Regions from separate parts of the Homo sapiens genome. Here regions 2, 3, 4 and 5 are each reported to be linked to region 1. The links are microRNA targets in miRTarBase. Many come from high-throughput screens and were not tested one by one. Region 1 holds a microRNA gene; each other region holds the end of a gene's coding sequence. Distances are between the middles of the regions.

Evidence for each region. Region 1 holds the annotated microRNA hsa-miR-3123 (CAGAGAAUUGUUUAAUC, at 4,189-4,205, shown strand). A microRNA usually pairs through its seed, bases 2 to 8, with sites in the 3' UTR of a target mRNA and lowers its output. Matches are read on the target gene's strand: a 7mer-m8 pairs with bases 2 to 8, a 7mer-A1 pairs with bases 2 to 7 and ends in A, and an 8mer does both.
Region 2: miRTarBase lists ST6GALNAC3 as a target of hsa-miR-3123. The part of its 3' UTR that is shown has no 7-base or 8-base seed match.
Region 3: miRTarBase lists ZC3H12B as a target of hsa-miR-3123. Seed matches in the 3' UTR shown: 7mer-A1 at 3,486-3,492, 7mer-m8 at 5,593-5,599 and 7mer-A1 at 5,653-5,659.
Region 4: the mRNA of TMEM19 is a reported target of hsa-miR-3123. Seed matches in the 3' UTR shown: 7mer-m8 at 4,088-4,094.
Region 5: the mRNA of BASP1 is a reported target of hsa-miR-3123. Seed matches in the 3' UTR shown: 7mer-m8 at 958-964.

The regions. Positions count from the first base shown.
Region 1 is chr1:241,128,132-241,135,065 of GRCh38, forward strand. It overlaps MIR3123 (microRNA 3123), which reads left to right and starts at 4,141; the gene lies at 4,141-4,215. All of the region lies in intron 2 of RGS7 (regulator of G protein signaling 7), which reads right to left.
Region 2 is chr1:76,628,467-76,631,466 of GRCh38, forward strand. ST6GALNAC3 (ST6 N-acetylgalactosaminide alpha-2,6-sialyltransferase 3) reads left to right here. Exons shown (of 5, transcript NM_152996.4): 5 at 154-3,000. The coding sequence ends at 340. Among named protein-coding and RNA genes, the nearest start is that of LINC02567, 150 kb to the right of the region's middle.
Region 3 is chrX:65,501,350-65,508,283 of GRCh38, forward strand. It overlaps ZC3H12B (zinc finger CCCH-type containing 12B), which reads left to right. Exons shown (of 10, transcript NM_001010888.4): 10 at 440-6,538. The coding sequence ends at 1,860. Among named protein-coding and RNA genes, the nearest start is that of LAS1L, 30 kb to the right of the region's middle. RefSeq lists enhancers at 963-1,463, 1,464-1,964.
Region 4 is chr12:71,699,079-71,706,012 of GRCh38, reverse strand. TMEM19 (transmembrane protein 19) reads right to left here. Exons shown (of 6, transcript NM_018279.4): 5 at 6,904-6,934; 6 at 966-5,181. The coding sequence ends at 5,018. Among named protein-coding and RNA genes, the nearest start is that of TMEM19, 16 kb to the right of the region's middle.
Region 5 is chr5:17,275,576-17,282,463 of GRCh38, forward strand. BASP1 (brain abundant membrane attached signal protein 1) reads left to right here. Exons shown (of 2, transcript NM_006317.5): 2 at 1-1,259. The coding sequence ends at 325. Among named protein-coding and RNA genes, the nearest start is that of BASP1, 61 kb to the left of the region's middle. RefSeq lists an enhancer at 59-559.

The DNA of each region.
Region 1 (6,934 bases):
GCCGGGCGTGTGGCGGGCGCCTTTAGTCCCAGCTACTAGGGAGGCTGAGGCAGGAGAATGACGTGAACCGGGAAAGTGGAGGTTGCAGTGAGCCGAGATTGCGCCACTGCACTCCAGCCTGGGCCACAGAGCAAGACTCCGTCTCAAAAAAAAAAAAAAGTTCAAAAAATGGCCAGGTGCGGTGGCTCACGCTTGTAATCCCAGCACTTTGGGAGGCCAAGGCAGGCAGATCACTTGACATCAGGAGTTTGCGACCAGCCTGGCCAACATGGTAAAACCCTGTCTCTACTAAAAATACAAAAATTTACCTGGCATGGTGGCGGTGCAAGCATGTAGTCCTAGCTACCAGGGAGGCTGAGGCTCGAGAAACGCTTGAACCCGGGGCGGAGGTTACAGTGAGCCGAGATTGTGCCACTGCACTCCAGCCTGGGTAAAAGAACGAGACTCCGTCTCAAAATAAATAAATAAATTTAAAAAGTTCAGAAAATATTTTATAATGTCAAAAATATAAATTACACAGTATATGTATATATGTAAATATATACAAATAATTTACATCTCTATAAAATATTTCAAAATTATTTTATAAAGCAACTTCCCAGAAATTGAGTATTTAAATGCTATTTGGACATGCAGAATAATAGGCAAAAAAAAAAAAAAAAAAAAAACTCTTCAGAGGAATAAGTAGGGAATTTCATACAAAGGGGTGATAACTCTTAAGATATTTTAGCTTTGGATTAATTTACATTTCCCTACCCCGTAATGATATGCTCCCTTGGGGCTAGAAAGAAAGCAAATTAAATACCAGTTGAACAACTAAATTGATTATTATATTGATATCCCTTCTTCAAAATGTTAACGGAAGGACAACTACTATTTATACACAATTAGCATGGAGGAGAGACGTAATTAAACATAACTTTAGATAATTTCTCCAAATTATACTCCTCTAACATTTTGAAAAAGTTTTTAAAACAGAAGTGATATAAAAACAGGTGAGCTTCTTACCCTCAGCCTCCATGCTATAAGTAACACTGAAATTCACCATAAGATTTTCTTGCAAAATGCCATAAATGACCTTGCGTGTTTAAGTGTACCACTGAGGGGATATTGGCTACTAGAAACAAACAAACAAACAAAAAAAAAACGGAACTCAAAACACTTCAAGCAGTAAAAGGTTTTTTGTTTGTTTTTAAATTTCACAAAATGAAGTAAAGTCCCGAGGCAGGATGATTTCAGATTTGGTTAAGTCAGATTCTTTCCGTATTCTGACTCTACATTCATCAGCATGGGACCTTCCCAGCCACGACATTATCACATTTTTACATGCCTGTGCCCAAAGGCAAAAATAGCGTCAACCTCTTACTTTTCCTTCCTCTAACTAGCAAAAAAGCATCGCCAGCACCCTCACAGAAGAAATCTCTTTAGGTCACAACAGCTAGAATTGCATTAAGTATATTTTATAAGCCAATAATCACCGGCAGAGAGAATAAAACAGACATAATCAACCCCCTAAAGAGCAGCAGTTCTCAAACTTGAGTGAGCACCACAGTTACTTGGAGAGTTTATTAAACGAGATTTCTGGGTGGAGCCCAGAAATCAGTAGGTATAGGGTGGGGCCCACGAGTCTGTATTTCCAAAAAACTTCCAGGTGTTACTGATGCTGCTGGTCCTTCTACAAACCCCCTGCACTGCCCTAAAGCACGTGGGAGCATCTTAGCAAAGGGGTGGGGGAGGTGGCTCAGGTAATCAACCAAAGTGCATCTGAGATCTAATATTATTTTAAAATTGCTTTTCAAGAATTCCTATTACTTCAAATTAAAGATGTAACTGAGTGTCTTCTGAGTATTTTAGAATTGCAAATTTTGATATTCTACCATCACTATGCTCCACCTCTCTGAAGCCATTACTAGGGCAAGGATATAGTGAGAAAGTTTCTGTCACTGCTAAGCAAGTGCATCCTTCAGATTGCCAATGTGTCATTGTAGTTGGAGCTATTAAACTTCTATGTGGCATGAAAATTGTTTGGCTAACTTTAAAAAGGAGAAAAAAATGGAAGTGGAGGTTAGAATTTTTCTAGCCCAGCAAGAACCCACTTGGTAACCACTTTTAGATAAAAAGCCCAAAAATAATATACTTCACCAGATGTTCCTTTAATTTTCCAGGGATTAATTTGAGAGTCAATTACCTATTTTAAGTGATTAACATAAATTAAAAAAAAAAAACACTAGGCTCTGAACCAATGCTTTTAACTGTATGATGGACCATTGTTCATTTCCGATACTTTTAAGAACTAGGATGATTTTGACACATTAAAAAATGTCCTGGAATGAATTTGCTATTCTGCTTGGCAACATTTGAGGAAGTAAATACTGCTACAAATCCTTTAGGTAGCTTTCAATTGTCCATGTCTGTTAGTGAGAAGAGGGACAGTAAGAAAAATGCTAAGGTCAAATTCACTCATGACTTCATGCCAAAAAAAAGGTATTTCTGAGTTGATAACTCTAAAATCTTTTTCTAAGTAGGGACAAGAATTACTAATAACAAACAGTGGAAAACATACTGAACTAAAACACAAAATATCTGAATTTTACAGGTCATTTAACTTCCCTGAGCATTGCTTTCTTATCTGAACCTCTAAGGATTGGATTTGGTGTTTGGTTTCTTTTTTATTTTTATAACATCCCTTTCAGATATAATCCAAAGGTGACATCTCCTTTCTCTGTCCTATCCATCTTTGATGATATGTGTTAATAACAGTTAAATGCAAAATAATAGGATAAAAGGCTTAATTACAAAAAAAAAAAAAAAAAACCAAGAGGCCAGATAATTCTACTCTGGAAGAACTGGCTGTAACATCATGATGATGGCAGCAATTTAGAAAGCCACATTAACTTTGTTACAGAGATTTATTTAACGCCAGTTTGAAGAATGACGTCTTTATGCCGATGACATGATTCATTTTTTTTTAATGAGTAAAATGTGTTTTTCTCCATTAGACTTTACTCTCTGTACCTTGAAAATAAAAATACCTTTCCAGTGTCATGCATGAGTCATATTGATTCTCAAATTAAACTAAACACCCATAGCACATAGGAAAAAAAAGCCAAATGACAATTTAGAAATGTAAGGGAATTTGAATGTCTACTCATTTACTTGAATCTAATCATTAAGATGAGGATGTTATTTCACTCTTTCTAGAACAATAGTTTTCCAACTTGAGTTTGCATCAGAATCACCAACAGGACCAGTAAAAACAGACAGCTGGACCCAACTTCCAGAGTTGCCAAGTCAGTGGGACTATGTAGGGCCTGAAAATTTGCATTTTTAACAATTTCTCAGGCTACACTGGCTGATGTTGCTGGTTGGGAACCACACTTTGAGAACTACTGTTTGTAGAAGACTGGTAAAAATTGGTAGGTGTAAGAAAGATATTCTTTTTAGATATATGTCTGGGAGCTGGGGGCAAAGTAGAAAAGCATTTAAAAAGCAAAAATGAGAGACACCTGAACTGTCATGCATTTACCAGAATTTTCTCTCATAACGTGGCAGCCTTCACTGTCCTCTTTCCTTTTTACTATTCTAAATCAAAACATTACAAATGTACAAGCTGGAACTGATTATGCATAATAGCTGATGTTACTTCACTGATTAAAAACAAAAAAGCAATAAACTTTGGCTCCCTCTGCAAGCTGCCCATAATAAAATGCAGAGGAAATATTTATTAATCAAGCAAAGACTGAAAGACATTTCGTTAATGGTCTGCCTCATCACATCAGTTTGAATCACATTACACATCCCGTTAAGAAGAGATGATGCTTAAAAATACAGAAAACTAAATGTGGCATTATCATCCATCCCAACTGGAAAATGTGATGGATTGTCCTTAATAGAAAGAGTGGTAGTCTATTCATGTGGTATGTCTCGCAAAGGACCGCCAGGCTCCAAGAGCCAAGTATTCTGATCACTTTTTCCTTAATGAGAGGCTCCCATAAACACAATTTAATCCTCTTTGAAAACCTGAGGGCTATTTTGTGTTTAAGTGGCATACACAGAGATCATTAAAATGTAAAAGAACTGTGCAGGGAGGCCCAATTTTTTTCCAGGTGGCCATGCATCAGAATTTTGTTAGAATGTAACATGGATTTGATTGAATGATTCTCCCATTTCCACATGGAGAGTGGAGCCCAGAGAATTGTTTAATCATGTATCCATGATTCAATATTCATTTATGGAGCACCTATGCTGGGCCAGAGGTACTATGAGTGGGGATGACAGGATGGATGTGACAGACAGGACCCCTGTCCCCATGCAGTTTACAGGCTATATCAGTAATTAACAAGAACTAAAATACTTGGCAAAGAGGAATGCTTCCATCAATGTTTGTTTAAATTAAAGGAAAAAAACAAACCCCACAACGAAATAATCAATACAGTTGTCACAAGTGCACAGGACAGCATGAAAGCCCATGACACATATTTTGGAGAAGAGGTACTTCCATTTTTTTTGGTGGGGGAGGTACATTAGCCTCAAATTTCACAGAATACATGCAATCTCAAAGTTAAAAAATGGGTTTTACTGTTAAGGTCTGTCAATAATTCAACTTATTATTTGTTTGTTTGTTTGTTTGTTTGTTTGTTTGTTTGTTTTAGACGGAGTCTAGCTCTGTCGCCCAGGCTGGAGTGCAGTGGCACAATCTCGGCTCACTGCAAGCTCTGCCTCCTGGGTTCACGCCATTCTCCTGCCTCAGCCTCCCAAGTAGCTGGGATTACAGGTGCCCACCACCAAGCCCGGCTAATTTTTTGTATTTTTAGTAGAGATGGGGTTTCACCGTGTTAGCCAGGATGGTCTCGATCTCCTGACCTCGTAATCCGCCTGCCTCAGCCTCCCAAAGTGCTGGGATTACGGGCCTGAGCCACTGCGCCCGGCAATTCAACTTATTAATACTAGAATACATTTTCTACAGAAAAAGTTGTGAAAAATTGTGATATAATTGTATTGTAGTACATTGTAAAAATTACAATACAAGTGAAATGCTTTTTATTTACATTTATAAAGAATAGAAAATGTAATCATAAGAAATAAGAGAAAAACCATTTTTACATAAAATTGAATATAAACAGCAATAAATGAAATCGACTATATATCAATTTGATAAACCACAGAGAAAAAAATAATTATTTCAAATAATTTTTGAAAATAGTTCTTTGACCCATTTTAATGGGATGTATAAGTCTAAGGGCAAAAAAAAAAGAAAAGGTCTGAAAGCATACCTTAAATTTATTAATGGGTTTGTTAGTAGTGATATTCTAATTTTGAGACAATATTGTAGAAAACTAAAGAGATAGGTTGATAATATTAGCCACCATAATTTTTTTTCTAAGGGAAAGGAGATACAAATATAAAAAAAAAGAAACCAAGAAAAAGAACACTCATAATATTAATTTTCTCCCACTTAATTTTTCTGTAATACTAAATTTGAATTGAAAAATATAGTGTGAACCAAAGATTATAAACGTAATTTCCCTTAGGGTTTCTACTGAAAGGGTTTAGAAACATTGACACAGTAGCAACAAGCAAATTTAGTTCCCTGATCCTGGTTTCTAAATACCATTCCTTACAGAAACAACAAACAAACAAAAAACAAACCAGTTAATACCAAGTTTAGGTTTGGTCAAGGTGAACTGGTGACAATTTGTTGTGCCAAACACTAATTTAAATCAAACTATGTGAAAGAATTCAAAAACTAGCTTCAAAAAGCATTCATGAGTTCACAATAAGAAACAGGGAGAGAGAGAGGCAGAGGGAGAGAAAGAGAGAGAGAAAGGGAGACAGAGAATGAATGAGATGCCCTCCAGCAAAGGAAAGCAGTAAGTCCACGACATCATCTATCCTTGCCAAAATGTCTATCCTGGATCTAATAAAGCATCCCATCCTGCACTGCCCAATATGGTAGCCATTAGCCACATGTGACTGTTTAGATTTAAATTTAGAATAATTTAAGTTAAACAAGTTAGAATTTCTTTTCCTCTATCATCCTAGCCCTCTCACATATGGCTGGTGGCTACTGTATTGGGTAGCACCAACGAAGAACAGCCATCCTCACAGCAAGATCTGTCGGGCAGTGCTGCTCCAGACCTATCTTCCAAATTATATGGAAACCAAGAAACCAAGTTAAATGACACTACGGGGAAACCATATGACAAATCCAGACTGACAGAATGCCGTGGGACTTCTACTAGACTATTAGCCTGAACTCTTCCAAAAGTAAATTGTGTTTGTGTGTGTGTGGTGTTTGAACACCTACATATGTATATAAAATGCAATTATTATTGTATACTACAAAGATGTAAGAGAGGTAACAACCAAATGTAATGCGTGAATCTGGACTGAATACTGAATTAGAAGGAAATCTGGAGAAATCTGAGAATAGAATGGATATTAGATGACTATCCCCACACCTACGCCATAGAAGCGGAAGTCACTCTTGTTGTTTATAAAAGGCCCACGAGGGAAAGTGCCCTACTTTTTCCCAGAGAGGGGAGGGGCTTGCGGGAAATGAATGGGAGAGAGTTGAAGCAGAGTGCTGAGAAGAGGGAAAGATTTACCATAACTGGAAAGGAAAAGGAGTTTTACTAGTTCCTCACTGAAAGATTGTCCCCGGGGCCTGAAAGCTTGAAGAGATGAGAAACTCCTCCCCTTTCAGGCCCAGTCCCAAGGCGCAAGGCCACTTACAGTAATCAGCAGCGTGGGTCAGCAAGACAGCGGAAGCAGGACGACAGCCGGCCGGAAGACACCTACCCCGGCCGGAAGACACCTACCCTGGCCGGAAGACACCTACCTCTGAAGATGGAGAAGGAGGCCGTCCGGGTACTACGTAGCAGTCAGGTCAGTCTGGGACATTTCCTGTTTACAGAGGACTATAAAACCCCTG
Region 2 (3,000 bases), 160 Mb from region 1:
TACATATAATAGCTTTTAACTGAGTTCATGGACAAGAATCATGTATGGGTTTGTGAGTAAATGCATTTACTGGGCACATAATGGATTCTTGTAAATGAGTGCTTCATTCTTCATCTCAATCTTTCTCTCCTTTTCTTTTTTTTTCTTTTCTAGGACAGAAGGGTATAGAAAAGTCCCCTACCATTATTATGAACAAGGAAGAGATGAGTGTGATGAATATTTTCTTCATGAACATGCCCCATATGGGGGTCATAGGTTTATCACTGAAAAGAAAGTGTTTGCTAAATGGGCCAAGAAGCACAGGATAATATTTACACATCCAAACTGGACATTGTCTTGATAATGGTTTTCCTGATCTTGCCGCATCACTTAATGTGATCCCCATACTGCAACTGTGATGCTGATGATGCTAATGGAGATGATGGTAATGATAAAGACAACAACAATGATTATCAAGTTCCTGTACACTCTCAGATGTGGATGGTGACTCTGCTAGTAATTTAAACTTGGCATTTCATGGAGGATGGTTGTGCTCATGATGTTCTTTCTGGAGGTTCAACACTACGTACCGCACTTTATAATTTAACTGGAATTGAGATGAAGGCCAGTGACATGACAACTGTGACCTAAGAAATGGGAAGATTATCTTTCAAGATAGCTGCCTAGAATTGTTCAACAGTGAGTAACTTCCAGAAGCCAAAAGAGTTTGGCTTCATGAGGCAAGGTGATTGACTCAATGGCTTGTTGAATCTCAGCAGTTCCGCCATCTTGAAGAATGATTGATTGTCAAACACTGACCCAAGAACTGCTATCAGGGTGCAAGTATCTTACTACTTAGCCTAAGGATGGGAAAATATCTCTTCCTAATATACCATCTTTCTACAGTATTTCCTACAGCTAAAGCCTCAGGCCATTGCCTAATTAACAATGAAGATTTCATGGACATCCTACACTTCAGGATTACTTGACTATCTCAAACACATAAATCAAAATGGGCCAAGTAGCAAATCTTGATGAATTTCCACTCTTACCATCCATTCTTACTACCAACAGTATAACTGAACATGTGATTAGAATGATCTATATTAATGTTTAGTTATTTTTGGTTGAGTGCTAAATATTTCAGAAGGCTACTTAACATGTAAGATACCAACTTCAACACTGTAATAACATATACTGTGAAAACATTCCTAAAAAGTAACCAAAGGGTTTGCTAACTCTGCTTCAACATCCAACAACACAAAACTATATGATTTTTAAAATCATGAAATAGAGACAGCAAAGCATATTTTTACATCAATTTGTATCCTATCATACTTCATAATATATATTTGTATATTCAAATTTCTATTTTATAGGCCCAAGGTGTGTTTCTCCAAACATTACATTCTCATTGCCAAGTGCCAGCTGTTACACATGGAGAGGAAATGATTCCTTATATTAAACCTGACCAGAGCTTTTTGCCTTCTAGGGATTTATTTTTCCCATAGTGTATCAGTTGTTATGCCACAATAACAACAATAATAATGTTCTTAATGTCCAAAGTGCTTTGTCATTTAGAGTCCTTTAACATCTGTTATACCATGTGATGCCCTTGAACACCCCATTGGGCTATTGTCTGTGTATTCTGCTCTCTTTAGCAGATGATCTGTAATTTGGTCATTGTTCTGTTATATTCCAGATTGCTCTACTTGCTAATATTTGTATAGAATAGAATTTATGTAAACTAGTAACCAGTTGATCTCTGTGCCAAATACATTATATCAGGATTACACAAAAAGTATCACAAAGGATGGTCTTGGCCATATGCTAGGGCCCCTGTGAAAATAAGTAGTTTTGAGAAGTTTTTCTATATACGTATATATACACGTGTGGTTCTATTTAGGTGGGGAAAAAATGAAAAAGCAGGGACAACAGGAGGAAATGAAGGCAGAGAAATATAGTTTCCTTTCCTAGGATTGAGACAATTCTATTTTTCATATACTCGTTGCTCATTAAATAGTAAAGGGTTGATTTGCTGCAAGAGTAGCTGAGAATTCAAAAACATCCTTGCAGAATGATTCAAAAGACAAAAGCCAGGCTCAACTTATAGAATGTTTTGGAAACTGGAAGTAATGATACATTTCACTTCAGAAGCACTTGTAGGTCTTTACTAGTGCTAAGTATTATGGTGAGCTATCATTAAAGTGTGCCATCTTGGATAAAGGCCTTTTGCCTACTCTCTTCTGCAATTTTGACACCTCAATATTCACACCCATAAACATTACTAAGCCCCAGTTCTATCGTTGGAAGGAGTTGTTATTCTTTTGTTGTTCCCTTATGCAATTTTTAATTCTATGAATGTTAAGTTTTTTTGAGCTAATGATAGATAGAAATGCCCACTCAAAGAAAAATAAACAGAGACAAATGTTAAAATTGCCATACAGACTGTTTTTCCCCCTGTTGTTTCACTTTAAAATAAAAAGAAATCCTTGATTAATCAGAATGGCTTGGGACATGAACTTAATTTATTTAGTTTTCTAATAAATGAAGGGCCAACTCTTATTTGTTCTAGCCCCTACTGATGAGAAACATTTGAAAACTTGCTTGCTCTCCTGCCTCGTTGTAGCTTTCTCTGATGAAGACTTCTGCAGTATATTGTATCCCTCACTCTATAGCAGAAGGTGTGTGTGGAATATGTAGACTCCAGTGTTTTCTTAGGAGGGGTGGGAAAGGGCTTTCTTTCCTCTCCTCTCCTCTCGTCTCCTCTTTCTTTCCTTTCTTTTTGCAACTAAACTGCTACTCTACACTTTTTATTGTTGTTTTCTTTGTCTTTTTCTTTCTACAAACAGGAAACAAAAAAAAAAAAAAACAAGTTTTTCTCAATTTGGAGACTCAATTGAATAATTTCCAGTATAATCAGCATTTTGATAGAATCTCACAACTTATTTTTCTCTGCTTTTATTTCCTGTTTTTCTTTGTTCCATCTTTCTAATTCTAGTGAAAATGCAAAGTCTAATT
Region 3 (6,934 bases), not on the chromosome of region 1:
CAAGAATTCTCCCACCTCAGGCTCCTGAGTAGCTGGGACTGCAGACGTGCACCACCATGCCCAGCTAATTTTGTTTGTATTTTTCTTTACAGACGGGGTTTCACAATGTTGCCCAAGCTGGTCTCGAACTCCTGGGCTAAAGTGATTCACCCACCTCAGCCTCCCAAACTGCTGGGACTACAGACAGGAGTCACCACATCCAGCCAGCTCTTAGCTTTTATGCTGCAATTTTCTCCATAGCTTTCCACTTTCTCTCTCCCATCACAGTGTATGATGCCTCCTTGGTGTTGTCTGTCTCTCATCTTTGTGGACAGTTAATTTTCTGCCTTTACCCCAAACAGTAAAACCCTAACCTGAGTGACCAGATTGTTACAACAGTTTTTGGCACAGAGGGTTCCATCACTGAGAGAGAGTCTTACCCCAAGGCATTATTTTTCAGGCAAAAAATGCACCTACGGCCACAAGTGCAAATACTACCATCCGGAGCGGGCCAACCAACCCCAGCGTTCGGTGGCTGATGAGCTCCGCATCAGTGCCAAACTGTCCACAGTGAAAACTATGAGTGAAGGCACCCTGGCCAAGTGTGGCACAGGGATGTCTAGTGCCAAAGGTGAGATAACCTCAGAGGTCAAACGTGTGGCCCCCAAGCGCCAATCAGATCCCAGCATCCGGTCTGTGGCTATGGAGCCTGAGGAATGGCTGTCCATTGCCCGTAAGCCTGAGGCTAGTTCTGTCCCCTCGCTTGTGACTGCCCTAAGTGTTCCCACAATCCCACCCCCCAAAAGCCATGCAGTGGGTGCACTCAACACCCGTTCGGCCAGCAGCCCAGTGCCAGGATCCTCCCATTTCCCCCACCAGAAGGCCTCTTTGGAGCATATGGCCAGCATGCAGTATCCTCCCATCTTGGTTACCAACAGCCATGGGACCCCTATTAGCTATGCTGAGCAATACCCAAAGTTTGAATCCATGGGGGACCATGGCTACTATTCAATGTTAGGTGACTTCTCCAAACTGAACATCAACAGCATGCATAACCGAGAGTATTACATGGCTGAAGTAGACCGGGGGGTGTATGCCCGGAATCCTAACCTCTGTTCTGACAGCCGTGTGAGCCATACCAGGAATGACAACTATTCCTCTTACAACAACGTGTATTTGGCTGTAGCTGATACCCATCCTGAAGGCAATTTGAAGCTGCACCGCTCAGCATCCCAGAACCGACTTCAGCCTTTTCCTCATGGTTACCATGAAGCCTTAACACGAGTGCAGAGCTATGGCCCAGAGGATTCTAAGCAAGGCCCCCACAAACAGTCAGTCCCCCACTTAGCTCTGCATGCCCAGCACCCATCAACTGGAACACGTTCCAGCTGTCCTGCAGACTACCCCATGCCTCCCAATATCCATCCTGGGGCAACCCCCCAGCCAGGCCGTGCCCTGGTGATGACTCGGATGGATAGCATTTCCGACTCCCGCCTCTATGAGAGCAACCCCGTGAGGCAAAGACGACCTCCCCTGTGCCGGGAACAGCATGCCAGCTGGGACCCGCTGCCCTGTACAACTGACTCCTATGGCTACCACTCCTATCCCTTGAGTAACAGCCTCATGCAACCATGTTATGAGCCAGTCATGGTACGGAGCGTGCCTGAAAAGATGGAGCAGCTTTGGAGGAATCCTTGGGTTGGAATGTGCAATGATTCCAGGGAGCATATGATCCCAGAACACCAGTATCAGACCTACAAGAACCTCTGCAATATTTTCCCTTCTAACATCGTCCTTGCAGTGATGGAGAAGAATCCCCACACAGCAGATGCCCAGCAACTGGCAGCCTTGATTGTTGCTAAGCTTAGGGCTGCACGTTGATATGACATAGTACTTATTTCTTTATACAAATATGAATATTAATACTAATAATACACTAATACAATAATTATAGTAACTAATAATTTGTGTTGCGCTTTACAAGTTAGAGTGTTTATATCATTTAAGCGCTTAACAACCCTGTGAGGTACGTCTTACTAACATCCTCTTTTATAGAGAAGGAAGGTGAAGGTCAGTGAAATTAAGTGGCTAGCCAGGGTCACACTGCTAGCAAATGACTAAGTCAAGACACACACCCAAGTCCTCTAAATCCAAGTCCCATGCCCCTTTGCACTGCACCATGCAGGTAATGGAGGACAAAACCCAGGGGGAGAGGTCTAGATGTAAGAAATCCCAGAGGATTCCATTACCAGAGTTTTCCTTTTTCTCTTTTCGTTTCTTTCTTTCTTTCTTTATTTTTTTTTTTTGAGACAGAATCTCACTCTGTTACACAGGCTGGAGTGCAGTGGCACTATCTCTGCTCACTGCAACCTCCACCTCCAGGGTTCAAGTGATTCTATGGCCTCAGCCTCCCAGGTAGCTGGGATTACAGGCGTGCACCACCATGCCCAGCTAATTTTTGTATTTTTAGTAGAGACGTGGTTTCACCGTGTTGGCCAGGCTGGTCTCAAACTCCTGGCCTCAAGTGATCCGCCCACCTTGGCCTCCTAAAGTGCTGGGATTACAGGTGTGAGCCACTGCGCCCAGCCTACCAGAGTTTTCGTAGTCACATATTCTATATTACAAAGTATGGATGATATATCCAATTTAGAGAGCAAAAGCATCAGGATCAGATCATATGTTGAATTAACCTTTTAGGTTTTTTCTAATAGAAATATTTAAAGCTATTTAAAAGTAAATGCATACTTTATTGCATGGATATCTGATCACTCAATCTATATTAATGAAACTATAGGGTCACATTGAAGCTTCTAGAACTATATTTTAAAGCTATTATTAGCAATTATATTGCATGTATGAATATATATATTTGGTTTGAGATGTGTGTGTATCTCTGTATAACCTTTTATATAGTGATAATGAGAGGGTAGGCTCTACACAGTCCTTCGTCTATAGCTGTATAGGTCACTAATCTGACTTGATGATTTTAAGTCACATTTCATAGTTTTAACTAGTTATGAGAGAGAAATTATATGGCAATATTTGAACATTGCTTTCTTAGGCACCAGAGCAAAGCAACTCTGTTTCCTTTGCACATTTTACCTGCCAACATTTATTAACAGTTCTTACCTTCCAAGTCTCTTCACCTTAGCAAATTAGGGATCAGGTTGCAGTCTTCTGCAGAGAAACTGATGGTTAAGCTCAAGTTCCAAGCATAGTATGTGTGTGCTACACAAGCTCAGAAGAGTTTGACAAGGACCAGGGGACTTACTACCACAATCCACTTCCCTTATCCCAGGAGAGATGGCCAAACCCATGTGGCATTAAATGGTGAATAAAAAAGCTTCACTCAAGGAGGGACTATTGGATGCTCTTTGGACTTCTGACCTATGCAGTATTCAACATCATTGGATGAAATGTAATGGAGGACAGTGCACAGCCATGTATCCACTTTCTCTTCCTGTCCACCCTTTGGGTAATAAGGTCAATCATTGGTGGAACAGAATTTCTCTAGGAAACAAAACCAGGGGATTTTATTTGTGGAAAAAGGAAGTTTCCAAAAGGGGATACTGCATCTTTACTAATAGCTGGCTCAGTTACTCACTTTAAATCCATGCAAAGAGTGCACTTGCTGTTAAATAATTGTTAAATGAGTTATTAGAAGGCAGGACTTTTGGTTTGGGCGACACCATTTGCGCAACTTGTATCTTGCTCAGGGTGGAAAACTTCATAGCTAAATGCCTCTAGAAGAGGTGTTTATTGTTTTTTTTAAGCTGCACTAAATGAATTCCCTTTTTGAATCCATTGTATATTTCAATATTTCGAACCATGATCAGCTCACTATTTCCTGAGCTGGAACTTGCTAACTTCTATGATCGTTTTTTCATGAAAGTTGAGAAGGCCGGGCCTTGGCCTTTTGTTTCTTCATGAGAAGGTGTGACACTGCCTATAAATGTTTCTTACTGTGAAACACTCTGAATGTGAGGCTGTAGTCAGGGTTGTTTCTGGTGGTTTGACAATGGCTTGCATGCTGCTTTCTGGCTTTCTGTCTCTGTCCAAGTTGATCAATACTGCATCTTAACCAATGTTTCACTTGAGTTAACCACAGCTTTACATTCTATCTCCTATCTTCTGATCTTCGTATACCCCAGCATATTGAAAAAGAGTAAAAGTATTTTCTATCAATCAGGTAGATCCACAGAGTGACAGTTGCCACTGCAGTGCTTGCTATTTCACACAAACACCATTTCATACCTTCAACTTCTTGGACTTTCTAAATCGGACTCGTGTCTAAATCAGGGTATTTGACAATCTCAGATGATGCTACTGCCTATGTGCCAGTTAGTTCATCTTCCTACCAAGATCATGAATGGCACCACACTATCCACTAGCTGTACAATTTACAGAGAAGCACAAGATTCATCTTGTCACCTACAATTCGTCTTGAACATGTTCATATTTAGTACTCAGAAACTGTGTAAGCTCCTCCCAATACAGAAAATATTTTTTAAGGCAGCATATGTATTTCTGATTTACTAAAAACGATTGTCATTCTCCTCTCATTCTTCTTTTTGGTATGAACCAAAAGCGGCTAGGAGCAATGCCTCAAATAACCAGAAATGACCTTTTGTTGATACAAATTGTATCTCTTTTTTTCCTGATTGTATAGAAACAAATGTACAAAACTCATCTGAAGCTAGGTTTGGCACTGAATTTTCACCATGAGGTTTGTGGCACTGTGTGTCACAGGGAAGTAGCTCAGGGGTTGTGAGGGAGCTTTTATTTCTAAAGGGCAGTAGTAATTTATAGACAAAAACAATTTTTCAAGGCCTCTTTATTACCACTGCACAGCTATCATGTGTAAAATTTCAAGCATTATATTGCATAAGTTCTCTTTAGCCTATTAAATTTAATATGTCCTTGCAAAAGGGATTTTGTGTAAAAAGTGTCAGTGTTAGTGACTCATCTGCAAGAATCTACAAATGGAGCTATACAACTATGAATACATAAATACAGCATGGTTCCTAGTTATTAGAGAAACATTTTCTTTATATTGAGGTCTACGCACTTCTTGACTTTCCATTTTGTCTGTAATTATAAAACAGCAAATAACAAAGAAGCATTGGGACCCCCTCGGCTGCCTTGATAATAAAATCAAGCTTCCTTCATGGGACTAAGCATGTGTCCTTCAGGATACTTACCTCTAAGCACTCAGCAGGGGTTACTACAAAGCGTTTTGTGTGGTTTTCAAAAAACAGTGTATTTTGCAAGAGGTGCTTTGTAATTTTAATTATTTCACTGATTTTCTGACCTCATAGGAAGTCTGTGCCTGTTGAGGCCTTCAATTTTGTAGCTTTTCTGATTTTTTTTCTTCTTTTTGTGATTTTGTTGTTGTTTTCATTTTGATCTAAAGGAGAAGTGTGACCCCGGAGTGGCATGGTCAATCCAGGGCACCCTTTCTGTAAGACAACTCAAAGGAAAAGAAGCCTTTTCAAAGGTAATATCGAGCCATTGCACTCTCTCTTAAGGTGCCAGGTATGGGAGAATGACAGATGCCTTATGGAAATGGTCTACAAAACTTTTCTTCTTCTAAGTAATAAAACACATAGCATGATTCTCTCTCCCTCTCTCTCTCTCTCTCTGCCCACCCCCTGCTAGTTTCCAGGAGAATACTTCTCTAAAATTCATTTTTTTCTATTTTGGAATAAATTATCTTTATACAGTAATTCAAACACTGATTTCCATTAACCTTTGGCCCTGAGTTTTCTTCTAACATAGAAGAGTTCATTTTGAGAGGCACTCAGTTACCATTCAATCTGTGCTGTAAGTATGGGACTTTGTACAAATGCCCTTTTTGAGGGCCAAAAATTTCAATACACTTTGTTCTACTTTGTGAACCAGGTCTGGATCTGCACAGAGAAAGTAATGCTGAGCTGTCCAAAGAGTCCGCTCAGGTCTCCCTCCTAACCCTCCTCTGCCTTCCCCTAGTTTGCTTATCCTCACGTCTGACACTGAGGAGTGCATAGTCTTCAACTGAAATGGCACTACAGTTAGTTCTCATTGGAAACAAACAAGTGTATTTCTGGAACCTGCTCGTCTAAAATAGTCAATGCCTTTGTAAAGACTCAGCATATTCAATATCTATTGTATGGTAGCTAGCTATATACATAGATTGACTATTTTTAGTCCTGGTTTGTGTATTGTTGAGCTATAGTAGTTTGCTTTATCCATTTGTGGGATTAAACAATACTGTTTAATGGTTGTAAACTTTTATAAAATCTCTTTGGGTTTTTTGTTTGACCCAAACATAATGTAAGTCTTAATGACAAAATACACAAAGTTAACCAGAGGTGAGTGAAAATATAGCCCTTCCCCAGTTTTGTCTGCCCCTATAATGCACGTGCATTGCTTTGTAATATGCTCTCGCTAGCATGAATGTGCTATGACTACTTCATGAGGTTTTGTTTCACCTATAATTGTGATGGAAAATGCTGTATTGCTGACAACAATGAACTGTAACCACAGTTATTTACTGCATAAACTATTTGTGTACTAACCACTCATGGCTCTGTTTCTTTAAGAATACCAACAACAATGGGCCGGGCATGGTGGCTCATGCCTGTAATCCCAGCACTTTGGGAGGCGAAGCAGGCGGATCACCTGAGGTCAGGAGTTGGAGACCAGCCTGGCCAACTGGCGAAACCCTGTCTCTACTAAAAATACAAAAATTAGCCTGGTGTCATGGCACGCACCTGTAATCCCAGCTCCTCGGGAGGCTGAGGCAGGAGAATTGCTTGAATCCAAGACTTGGAGGTTGCAGTGAGCCGAGATCATGCTACTGCACTCCAGCCTGGACGACAGAGTGAGATTCCATCTCAAAAAACAAAACAAAGAAACAAAAAACAACAACAACAAAAGCCATGCCACACATACATATACATATACTACATATACT
Region 4 (6,934 bases), not on the chromosome of region 1:
TTTATTATTACTTTTTAAATTGAGACAGAGTTTCTGTCACCCAGGTTGGAGTGCAGTGGCGCAATTATGGCTCCCTGTAGCCTCCAACTCCCATGCTCAAACAATCCTCCCACCTCAGCTTCCTGAGTGGCTGGGACTACAGGTGTACACACCACATTTGGCTAATTTTTTATTTTTTGTAGAGACGGGGTCTTGCTGTGCTGCCCAGGCTGGTCTCAAACTCCTGGCCTTAGGTGATTCTCCCACCTTGGCTTCCCAAAGTGCTGGGATCATAAACATGAGCTACCACATCTGGCCTAATGTTGTAATTTTTAAAAAGGAATAGTCAGTGTATTATTTAATATTAATAAAAATTTAAAAATCCAAACTTAAAAAAAGAGTTGCCATATTTATAAAATAAATTTTTGGCTGGGTGTGGTGGCTTGCACCTGTAATCTCACACTTTGGAAGGCTGAGGTGAGAAGATCACTTGCGCTCAGGAGTTCAAACCCATTATGGACAACATAGGACATAGTCTGGATTCATCTCTGCAAAAAATTAAAATAAAAAAAAAAAGTAGCCGGGTGTAGTAGTGCAAGTCTGTAGTCCCAGCTACTTGGGGGCTGAGGCGGGAGGATGACTTGAGCTGAGGAAGTTGAAGCTGCAGTAAGCTATGACTGTGCCACCGCACTCCAGCCTGGGCAATAGGGTAAGACCCTGTCTCAAAAAAATAAAAAATAAATAAAAATAAATCTTGTCTAGATTCACGATTAGATCTACAAAAAAAAATTTTTTTTTTGAAGAGGGCAGTTATGATAAATGGAGAGTGAAGTCTTGTCAGAGAAAATAATTTCAAGCCTCGCCCTGCCACTCCTTCACTTCTTCAATAATTTCCTGGCTCATTAGTTTCAAAAGCATTAATATTGTTTTGCATGATTGAAAAATGCTGGAAACATTCCAGTTCTCAGAAATTCAGGTAGCCAAACTGGTTTTTCATTTTGTATTTTCCTCCAGGAATATGGTGCTGATTATCACCTTCCAGTCATTCTTAAAAGAAACAATGATTAGAGTCAAACAACTTAATTCAATGAATACATATTGAATGCTTAAGTATTTTTAAAATATCAAGAACCACTTGGAGTTATAAAAACAGATACTCCATAAAGGAGATTAAATAATTAAGCCACATAATTGTGTTTTCCTTTTTTTTTCAAGATGGAGTCTTGCTCTGTCACCCAGGCTGGAGTGCGGTGGCACGCTCTCTGCTTACTGAAACCTCTGCCTCCTGGGTTCAAGTGATTCTCACGCCTCAGCCTCCTGAATAGCTGGGACTACAGGCATGCGCCACCATGCCCGGCTAAGAGATGGGGTTTCACTGTGTTGGCCGGGCTGGTCTTGAACTCCTGACCTCGTGATCTGCCCGCCTCGGCCTCCCAAAGTGTTAGGATTACAGGCATAAGCCACCTCGTCCGGCTGTGTTTTCATTTTTAAAGCACACCACAATTCACCTGAGATCTGGTGGCTAGTATAGATCATTCTCATTGTGATAGCACTGGGAACATTACATAAAACTTCAGGAAGATCAGATGATTGGGCCCTAGTATACCCACTGTGCCTAACAGGCAGCAGCTGTTCATATCACAGGTATGCGGCAAAGTTTAAAACATCATTTCACATGCTTTTTCTCTATACTAGTCCTTTATCTAATTGGGGCGGGGCTGCTATTTCTGCAGGCAGCATCCTATGTGTACAGCAGCTAGAAACAGGAAAGATATATGTGAGAAACAGATAACTCAAGTAATGAGAAAAGCTAATAATAGAATGACCTGCTGTATCAATTCTTTGGTCTCTTGGTGGCTCCATTTAATGAGTTTTCAACATGCTACTCCTGCAAGTCTTCTTCAGGAGCTGCCCCAAGCCACATATATCTGCTCTCTTCTATCATGGAACAGTATGATAAGAAACAGTACACCTTTATGCTGCTAGGTAGGCAGTTTTATTATGCTGTTACATAGAGCTCTTTCCATGAAAAGTGATTTTAACATGAACTGCCCATTCTGCAAAGAGGAAAAATATGTTGAATTAGTTAAATATCCAATTCAAAAGATGTTACAGTAAAATACATGTAAGACTTAACAAAAAAAAAAAAAAAGGACAGAGACACAATTTCTTATCCTCAATTCTCATCTCCAAAAAGCTATGAAAACCAGTTTATTTACAAAGCTTGGTGACAAAACCTGACCAAACTTGATCTGAGGCTCTTTATGATCTTTAGTTATACTTAGTGGGGATGTTCATAAATCACCACAAAAATAGGAGTATATTTGATAATGAGCTGCCATCCCAGACTTTTTTTTAGTAGTTTTGAGTGAAATATTTTACACAGATCCTATTAGTTTTTGAATAGCTCAAAAATTTTGATGCAAAACACAGCTAGACCTAAGTTTTCAAATAAAGGACTGCAAAGCAGTACTTCCCCAAACTGTTAATGATACAGTGATTCTACTAAATTCAAAGACAGTCCCAATAAATATTTTTGTCCCCTTGTATGTCATGAGGATAAATCTCCAGGGAAAAAAAGGGCATGTCAGAACGATGTGCAGGCTGTGTGAAAACTGACACATGATTTTATAAATGATGTAGCTGTAAGACACTGTGTCATTACCAGAAGTTATTCATCCATAAAGATAACATATTGTGTGGTTGCTAATAGTTATCTCCCTAAAACCGAAAAGTCCCATTCTTTTCAAGTGCTTAGATACAGTGCTTTAGGACATTCTTATGTAGTTCTAGTGCTTAGAATATTCTTTTTTTTTTTTTTTTTTTTTTTTTTTTTTTTTTTTTTTGAGATGGAGTCTAGATGGAGTCTCCCTCTGTTGCCCAGGCTGGAGTACAGTGGTGCAATCTTGGCTCACTGCAACCTCCACATCCCAGGTTCCAGCGATTCTCCTGCCTCAGCCTCCTGAGTGGCTGGGAATACAGGCACGCACCACCACACCTAATTTTTTGTATTTTTAGTAGAGACGGTGTTTCACCATGTTGGCCAGGCTGGTCTCGAACTCCTGACCTCAAGTGATCCACCCGCCTCGGCCTTCCAAAATGCTGGGATTACAGGCATGAGCCAGTGCGCCCGGCCCAGGATATTCTTATTCAGTGCTTCTCAATTTGGTTAAGCATTAGAATCTCCCAGAGAGCTTTGTAAAAATACCCATGCATGGGCCTCATTGTCCAACATTCTGACTAACTTGGTCTAGAAAGGGGCCCTGGCAACAATGTTTTAAAAACTCCTTACATGATGATTCAATGTACAGTCAGAGCTTTAAAAAGTCTCAATATCCAGGCTGTACCTTAGATCAGATAAATCAGAATTTTGCAGTGTGAAACCCAGACATCAGTACTTTTTTAAAAACATGCCCTGGTGGCTGGGCACAGTGGCTCACATCTTGTAATAGATCTTTGGGAGGCTGAGATGGGCAGATCACTTGAGGTCAGGAGTTCGAGACCAGCCTAGCCAACGTGGCGAAACCCTGTCTCTACTGAAAATACAAAAATTAGCCGGGCGTGATGGTGCACGCCTGTGATCCCAGCTACTTGGGAGGCTGAGGCATGAGAATCACGTGAACCCAGGAGGCGGAGCTGAGATCATGCCACTGTGCTGGAGTCCAGCCTGGGCCACAGTGTGAGACTCTGTCTCAAAAAACAAACACATAAACAAAAAAAGCAAACATGCCCTGGTGCTTCCAATGTATACCCAAAGTTTAACCCAATTGTTGCAACCCCCTGATCTAACTGGCTTAAAGGTTAAGGGTGTGATTGTTTTTTCTTCTGTCCTGAAGTAAGTCAGTTCTAGATCATCACCATAGTAGGGCCACCAATAAAGAATTCTAAGCATTATCCACTCTGGTGGTGGTGTATTCATAAATCCTTCCCCAGTTTCTTTAAAAAAGCAAAAGGGGCAGGAGGAAGAAGGTACAGAAATCACATGAGAAACATTTAAAAATACTTTTAGTAAAATACTCTGTACCCTGTCAAAACTCCTTTGGCACACAGTAAATCATAGTGAAGAACAAACATAGCAGAATTGCCTTAGTTGAGGCTACAGTGTAAGAGAGAATACAACTTAGAAGGTAATAATAGAAAAATCATAGCATTTTCCAGCAATTGATATGACAGTAAATTTATAAAGAAATACAATAATTTCCCAGTGACTCTTAACTGTTCAGGATGCCAGTGCTAAACCAGGTTGCCATACATAATTCAAAGAAAGCTAGAAAACACATTCCACATATTAAATTGAAGATAATTTTTGTTCAGAGAGCAACTGAAACATATAGTAAGTTATATATTTTTTAGATATAAGATAAAATTCTTTTGCTTTTAGTTAAAATGATTTTTTTCATACATTCTAATGGACATATGAAAAAGATATTTACTTTTTTTCATCACTAACCCTGAGGAAGGAAGAACAAATGTGGAGTAGGCCACAAAACTCACTAGGAACCAATCTCCACACTTTTCCCAATTGTGAATAGCAATTAATGGGAGAAGTTCAGGATACTACACTTGTTTAGGCTCCCATACACATCAGCTTAAACTATTTAAAATAGATACAACATTTGGGCAACTAGCACAGTGGCATTTCTCTGCTTCAACTGAGAACTATTTTAAATATCATCACTTTTATTTCCTACACTGGTTTAAACAAACAAAACAAAATAAGACAAAACTTGACATTGATTATGTAAGAACTTTCAGTTCAATATATAGTAATATGTAGGGACAATATAGCTTCATTGCTCAAGACTTCCATTCAGCAGGAAAAAAATGCATAAGTTCTAGGAATTCTTCTCTTTCACTAGAAAGACGCTAGCTATTACAGGGGAGTTGATGAGAGGAAAATGTGAAATCCCATCTCAATGGAATACAGGAGGAACTGGCATTTCCGCTTTGCCATTACAGTTATTATTCTTAGGATGAAAGTTGGAATTGCAAATTTAGCTGGACTCACCAGTTTCAACCTGTGGAAATGAAATAAAGTTCACCCCCTGGGCCAAAAACCCCAAGCAGCAGTTGGGAGCAAGAGGGCAATAAGAACAGAAGAAAACAGATTCACTGCGTTGTTATCAAGAATGGGTTTCCCTGCTATGTGCCTTGCCTTATTTGTTGGGCTGTTGACCACCATGCCAGTGCTTTCATCCAACCCTGGAATGGAAAAAGAAGCAAGTGAGATAGAAAACCCAAATGACTTCATTTTTTTTCTTTTCTTTCTTTTTTTTTTTTTTTATTATACTTTAAGTTCTAGGGTACATGTACTTGATTTTAAAAAAAGAACAAAATAGGCTTTTTCCTCCAAAGGAGACAATCTTTGAAAGGTTCTAAGTGACTTGCTAAATGACTTTAATGGATCATTTATATGATGAGAGACATGGGACCCTTGATTACAAATGGCCTCTTTGAATAAATGGGTTCTCAGTAATTTTCTGTCAATACCTCTGGAATTGCTTCAGAAGTGGAAGAGAGAACATGAAAAGCAGAGAGGGCATGAAACTGGCAGGTTGGGCCTGCCTTCCCAGTGGTTCCCCTCCAAGACTGATCTATGACGTCCTTGGGAGTAGGGATCATGTCTGTGGCCACAGTACTGTAAACGCAGGGTTGAGCATGGGGCTGGCACAAAGGAGGCACACAAAGATTTACAAAATCTCCCCTACTGCATGCATTTCTTTTCAACCCACTCAATGCAATCAGAAACTTCCCCAGTTAGAACCCAATTTAGAATAAAACCTACACTCTTTAAAAAACATGTTTACTGTCTGTGTGTGCGTGTAGAGTTATTGACCCTTTAGTGAGAATTAAGATCAGATTGCTTCGTCCTTAAAATCTAAATGAGACTAACAAAATGGAGAACAAATATTCTGACTGATGGAGAGGGGGAGGAAGGGCACATAGATTTTCTGAGGCATGAAGAGTGCTGGGAGGACTATACTGAGAGAACCCTTCTCTAGCCTTCCAACCTCTTCCTGATGTCAATCAAAGGAGAAACATGGTTGATGAGAGTGTGGAGCAAATACACACCTAACAGAATATGTGAGTACACTGATAGGATGGGAGAGCCTTAGAAACAAAGCACAGAAAATTTTGAGAAAAATATCTACCACTCTACCATATATCTTTTTTCTTTTTTTTTGAGATGGAGTCTTGCTCTGTTGCCCAGGCTATAGTGCAGTGGCATGATCTCGGCTCACTGCAATCTCCGCCTCCCAGGTTCATGCAATTCTCCTGCCTCAGCCTCCCAAGTAGCTGGGATTATAGGCAGGCGCCACTACACCAGATAATTTTTGTATTTTTAGTAGAGATGGGGTTTCACCATGTTGGCCAGGCTAGTCTCGAACTCCTGACCTCCAGTGATCTGCCCCCCTTGGCCTCCCAAAGTGCTGGGATTATAGATGTGAGCCACCGTGCCCAGACATCGACCATATATCTTAATGAAGCAAAAAACTCAGGGGCAAGAATAGCAAGCATGATACCACAGTAAGAAAGTAGGTCGTGTGTATAGTCAGATTTGTACAATTACTCCTCAAATGGAATAGGAAAATGAATGGAAGGAATTGTATTAAAATGATCTGATCCCAAACGTCTTGCTTTTCTGGGATTAGGTAATGGCTCACACAAAAACGTCTGTTCTCTGCACTATTGTATCTTCCCCACATGGCTTCTAATCATTGCTGCGCGGGACTAATTCTCTTTCAATTAATTTAATACAAAAGAATAAGAAAACCAAAATTGTGAAAGAGACTTTGCCCTATCATTTCTAGTCCCTCAACACCCTGTGTCTTTGGATTTGTTTTCATTGTTAACATTTTTTTCTTTCTTTTCCCTATTTCTTTAACATACCAATAAGTTGCAAGAATGAAGGAATGTTCTTACCAGTATACTGCATTGTAGCCCCTAAGTATGA
Region 5 (6,888 bases), not on the chromosome of region 1:
CAAAGCTGCTGAGGCCGCCGCGGCCCCGGCCGAGAGCGCGGCCCCTGCCGCCGGGGAGGAGCCCAGCAAGGAGGAAGGGGAACCCAAAAAGACTGAGGCGCCCGCAGCTCCTGCCGCCCAGGAGACCAAAAGTGACGGGGCCCCAGCTTCAGACTCAAAACCCGGCAGCTCGGAGGCTGCCCCCTCTTCCAAGGAGACCCCCGCAGCCACGGAAGCGCCTAGTTCCACACCCAAGGCCCAGGGCCCCGCAGCCTCTGCAGAAGAGCCCAAGCCGGTGGAGGCCCCGGCAGCTAATTCCGACCAAACCGTAACCGTGAAAGAGTGACAAGGACAGCCTATAGGAAAAACAATACCACTTAAAACAATCTCCTCTCTCTCTCTCTCTCTCTCTCTCTATCTCTCTCTCTATCTCCTCTCTCTCTCTCCTCTCCTATCTCTCCTCTCTCTCTCTCCTATACTAACTTGTTTCAAATTGGAAGTAATGATATGTATTGCCCAAGGAAAAATACAGGATGTTGTCCCATCAAGGGAGGGAGGGGGTGGGAGAATCCAAATAGTATTTTTGTGGGGAAATATCTAATATACCTTCAGTCAACTTTACCAAGAAGTCCTGGATTTCCAAGATCCGCGTCTGAAAGTGCAGTACATCGTTTGTACCTGAAACTGCCGCCACATGCACTCCTCCACCGCTGAGAGTTGAATAGCTTTTCTTCTGCAATGGGAGTTGGGAGTGATGCGTTTGATTCTGCCCACAGGGCCTGTGCCAAGGCAATCAGATCTTTATGAGAGCAGTATTTTCTGTGTTTTCTTTTTAATTTACAGCCTTTCTTATTTTGATATTTTTTTAATGTTGTGGATGAATGCCAGCTTTCAGACAGAGCCCACTTAGCTTGTCCACATGGATCTCAATGCCAATCCTCCATTCTTCCTCTCCAGATATTTTTGGGAGTGACAAACATTCTCTCATCCTACTTAGCCTACCTAGATTTCTCATGACGAGTTAATGCATGTCCGTGGTTGGGTGCACCTGTAGTTCTGTTTATTGGTCAGTGGAAATGAAAAAAAAAAAAAAAAAAAGTCTGCGTTCATTGCAGTTCCAGTTTCTCTTCCATTCTGTGTCACAGACACCAACACACCACTCATTGGAAAATGGAAAAAAAAAACAAAAAAAAAACAAAAAAATGTACAATGGATGCATTGAAATTATATGTAATTGTATAAATGGTGCAACAGTAATAAAGTTAAACAATTAAAAAGAAGTAATAAAGACTATTGGGTTTTTTGTTCTGTTTGTTTTACTTTTCTAGTCCCCTTCAATAACTACTTTATCAGAGAACAGAGCACTGTATTGGCCATTTTTCTGAATATATTTGGATAGAAGTAAAAAAATAGACCAGGGACGGTGGATCACGCCTGTAATCCCAGCACTTTTGGAGGCCGAGGCAGGTGGATGGCTTGAGCCCAAGAGTTGAGGACCAGCCTGAGTAAGATAGTGAGACCCCACCTCTATTTAAAAAAAAAAAAATGCCAACATTATTTGTTGAAAAAAATAGCTAGGGCAATGTCAGTAAACTATCTCAGAAGAAGTTAAACTGAAAACTTACTGCATCTATGCATATGCACCCTCTGAAAATGTAACTAATTAAGAAGAAGAAAGATTTTGAATAAAACACGTTAAAAGACAATAAATAGATTTGATCTTGAAGGCTGGGGAAAAAATGAATGACAGGATCTTATAGAAACCTGTGTTTGTAAATTGTGGCACCACTAATGGTTATTCTGTTCTATCCCATCCCCTATTTTTATTTTTATCATATTCATGGTAGAGCCAGGAAAGGCCACCTGAGAATTGTGCTATGAGACAGCAGTGATGCGGAAGCAAGCATGGAGCCGGCCTTTATGGTGACCGGATTTCGGTCCTGATTTTGCCACTAGTGACTTGGATGGGTTTTAAGTCACTTCCAACCTTCCCAGACCTTCCTTGCTTTACTTACAAAAGGGTGTAGCCTTTATGATCTCTGAGGCAAGGTCCCATTTAATGGTTTGGGTACATACCCGGTGACAATTTAATGTCACGATGCATAGGTATGCACAGACTGATGGGATGTCTCTTCCATGTCTTGATTCTCCAAAACTCACAGAGTAATGAATAACAATTTCATAGTTTAGAAAACTCCGACATAGGAAATGTCCTGTGGAATGTGTGAAGGCCAGTGTAATGGAATTGATTCTCAAAGGGACATTAATGACACAATGGATTCAGACGAACCTGGTTCCATTCTTACGGGTTACATTACACATGGTTAAATAAAAAAGGGAAAAAAATCTTTGAGTATTTTGGGAGTAGCCTATAGTCTGTCTCTTACCTCATTGGGAAAGAAAAAGTGGTGAAAGTGAGGATTATGTAAGTATTATACCCGTTGGGTTCAACTGGTATTTATGATCATTTTTTGGCACTTTGGGTTCTTGTTTCTATAGTGAGATAAATTTGAATTCTTAATGCTTGAAAGCACAGCATACAAGAAATCTGTAAACACAGTAACCACCAGGCAACTGTTTTACATAAGGAAAAAGAAGGGGAATGTCCAGGTAATTACCCGCGTGTCCTCGCATATACAAAATAGCTTGGGGGCCGGTGATGGTGATGGAGTGGTAAAAGATTCAGTGAACCATGGAGGACATTTATATAGTTACTGATTAAATGCCATGCATTTATTGCAGAAAAATATGCTTGGTGGAAGTAATATTTTATATATTCACTGTCTTCCCCACTTCCCCTTCTTCTAATAAAAAAAATGCTAAGCTTTTTGGTAATTAGAACAATCAAATCAGCCTCCCAGATTAGCATTTATTACTACAAATTGCCATTTTTTGAATAAATGAAACTGAGACATTTTTCTGAATTTATTTGGAGTTGCAGAGTAGGAGAATTAAAATCTGAGCTATATATATTTATTTTTCTTTTTTATAACTCCATTAGGTGTTGAAGCAACTAAAAAGTGTTAGAAATATAGTCACCAAAATGTTTAAATCAGAATTTTAACCTAGCCATGGTTCATGACATTGAATTTTACCATACTGAAGAAAAAAACTTGAGCTGTAGTTTGAAGTTGTATATGCAGCAGAAAATGTAGTACGTGTGGGAGTAATTGGCTCAGCCAGGAAGGGAACAATGTTGGGCCATGTTAATTTGGATTAACCTAGATTGTTCTTGCCTCATGAATGATTTAAAATGAAGAGAAGGGACTGCACAGCCTGTGCTGAACAGGCAAGTCAGAACCATCGGGGAACTTACCGCATATTTGCTTCACTAACTTAGGCATGTCCCTCTCCTCTATGAAGAATGAAGTGTTCCAGGGTCTAACGTTCATTTACTGGGTGCCTTTGTGCGTACTGCAAGGAGGAAACTATGAGGAATCCAGAGGAACTTGTACAGGGATGCCAGGCTTGTCCCTCCACTTTGAAGATTCTTTTCCGTAGCTGATGCCGCCTCTGCATGATGGGAATGGACTCTGGTCCCCAAGAGCTGGCATGTGCCATGCATCCCAGGATGGCCCTTCCTGGTCTCAACCCTGAGAGAAGGCCATCTTCAGTCTGTTCCTGGCAATATGGAGGCAGAGGTGGTACTGGCACTCCCGGAATGTCATTCCCCAGTCTTGGAGAATCTTCTTTCTCTCTGGAATCAAGACGTAGGTCTAGTGGACAGTAAGGACTTGGTTGTCAACTACTTGCGCTGACAAGACCTAGACATACTTTAGCTGGGTAACTTCTTTACCTAAGTTGGGTAAATCATTAGGTACCAGCATAGCCAAGAGTACTTACTGCATTGCTAACAGGAAGTTTGTTTTCGTAAAGCATCCTGGGACTTTAATTTTCCTTGAATGAAACATCATGGTATAACAAAACACAGTATCTTCACTGAAACAGGCACATACTAGTTAGTGTCCATGATCAGAGCTAACTATAGGACACCGATCTTAAGTGTTCTTTCATAGATAGGAGGCATATACATATCCAGCAAATTTCAGTCAGGTTTCATCTATGAAAAAAACTCATTTATGAAATTTCCTATTTTGGTGTTTTCCGGTTTCTTGTCTCAAGATTGATGGGATTAATCTCCATCCTTTTGATTTCTATTCTGCTATTTGGGAAGGTAACTGGAGTTATTTTGAGCTTTGTTTTAGCTAATTTGCATAATAATGAAAACTGGATGCTCAGGAGGTAATCTTAAAAATGTACCAAATGGCAGTACCACTAGTAGTTGTGAGATTAATCAGGTGAGCTTTTACATTTATCCTCATAAAAGGAGGCACAATTTGCTTGATTTGTAACTGACACTGATTTGGTTTACTAAGTAGTTAATATTTTAAATATTTAGCTCAGAGAGTGCTATTTGGCCAGAGTGTCATGTATTTTCTCAATGCTATCTCCTCACAGAAAAATTAAAAGGGCAATGTAGGGAGTTTTTCATGAAGCTATATTTCTTTGATTTTTTTATAAATGCTATCTCTTACCATGATTCTATATGCTTTCTACTGTTTCTTTTTGTTTGTTTGTTTTTAAATTTTTTTTTAGAGAGTCTCACTGTCACTCAGGCTAGAGTGAAGTGGTGCAATCATAGTTCACTGCAGCCTCAAACTCCTGGACTCAAGCGATCCTCTTGCTTTAGCATTCTGAGTGGCTAGGACTGCAAGCAAGCACCACCAGGCCCAGCTAATTTTTTTCTTTTTTTTTTTTTGTAGAAACTGGGGTCTCACTATGTTGTCCAGACTGGTCTCCAACTCCTGGGCTCAAGTGATCCTTCCCAAAGTGTTGTAATTACAGGCCTGAGCCACCATGCCCAGCCTCAATCTTTTTAAGGACAAAATTTATTAGTAGTATATAAAATCTCAAAGTCCAGGGAATCATGGATTTGGTACATTTCTCCAAGTTTCCTCAGTCTTCATTTTATTAAAAGCATTATTCATTCTGAAGCTATATGCTTCCATTCACATACATATTTAAGGAAATTCCTGAGGGAAATAACTTTGAAAAAGAACTACAATCATAAAAAAAAAAAAAATAGTGCAACTGTACACACTGAAATAAATAAACCAAGTAAAAATCTCATACCTATCTCCTTATCTCTTTTTATTATTTTTTAAATTTTTATTTATTTATTTAAGACGGAGTCTTAAACTCTTTCACCCAGGTTGGAGTGCAGTGGCAAAATCTGGGCACACTGCAACCTCCTCCCAGGCTCAAGTGATCCTCCAGTTACTCAGCCTCCTGAGTAACTGGGACTGCAGGTGCATGCCAACACTCCCGTTTAATTTTGTGTATAATATTTTTGGTAGAGACAGGTTTTTGCCATGTTGCTCAGGCTGGTCTGAAAGTTTTAAGCTCAGGTGCTCTGCCCACCTTGGCCTCCCAAAGTGTTGGGATTACAGGCATGAGTCACCATGCCTGGCCCTATCTTTTTATCTCATGTGCACTTGATTTCCATTTTTTCCTAAGGTCCATATGTCACATTTATTTTTCATTTTGTTGTCTTTGAAGGTAATTTTATATTTTCCCTGAGTTTCCCTCTGGGTCCGGGAAAATTTGTCATTAATACCATTCATTTATAATTTAATGGCTTTGTATAATGTACCCATTCCTTTTATTGCAACTCCTTGAGGTCAATGTGTTAAAATGTTAAATGGAAAAATGATGGGTTAATAACTACTTATTTAGAATCATCTAGAGAACACATGAACTTGCTTTGTTTTGTTTTGTTTTCATTTTTATTGCTTATATAGTCCAGGATTTAAGAGACTAAAATGGTCTCAATAAAAATGTTGTCTTGGGGAATTCTCATCTTAAATATAATTTTTACATATATTTCATGAATTCTGAATCAGAGTTTCAGATAATAAAAACAAAACATTGGTAGTCTTCAGGCTTCCCCGAATATCTGGGTATAGAAACTTATACCAAAGCTTAAAAATAAATATATTTTGGCCCAGACGCGGTGGCTCATGACTGTATCCCACGATTTTGGGAGGCCAAGGTGGGCAGATCACTTGAGGCCAGGAGTTCGAGACCAGCCTGGCCAATATGGCGAAACCCTGTCTCTACTAAAAATACAAAAATTACCTGGCCATGGTGGTGCACACATGTAATTCCAGCTACTGTGGAGGCTGAGGCAGGAGAATCACTTGAGATTCTTGGGGTGGAGGCTGCAGTGAGCTGAGATCGTGCCACTGCACTCCAGCCTGGGCAACGGGATGAGACTGTCTAAAAATAAAAATATACATATATACACACATACACACACACACACACACACATACACACATACACATATATAAATCATTTAGAGAGCACTTTATATATATGTATAGTTTGTAAAACTTACATATATATTTTGATAAAAAAAGAATGATCTTACAGACTGAGTTCCAAACACTAGAGGCTTATTATTGGTGATCTCACTGTCTTTTGGCTTTTTAAGCTATGAATTTATTAAAGTAGAAAATATGTTTGAATAGGCAACAAAGATTCTTGCCTTGTAATTGAATGAATTAATCTTTAATGTTGATTTGTTGTATTTAAAAGCCACACACCTGAAAGTCAGGCACATCACATAATTACTCAAAGAAAAACAGGCCCCTGTTTTACCTTGAGGAAGATTGGTTGACTTGTCACATGCTTTTGTTAACAAAAAAAGTGGGGAAAAAAAAATCCCCCCAGCCCTTCCTCTAAAAAGAAAGCAATCCTCTTAATGCAGGAGAAAGACTGCATTTCAGTACCTCAGAAACAAACCAGTTTTGAGTTTTGTCGTGAAAAGAGATGACACATGTAATTACAAGAGCCTTTTACACAGGTTGGGAGATTTGATTTGACAGTCGAACCCCATTAAAAGAA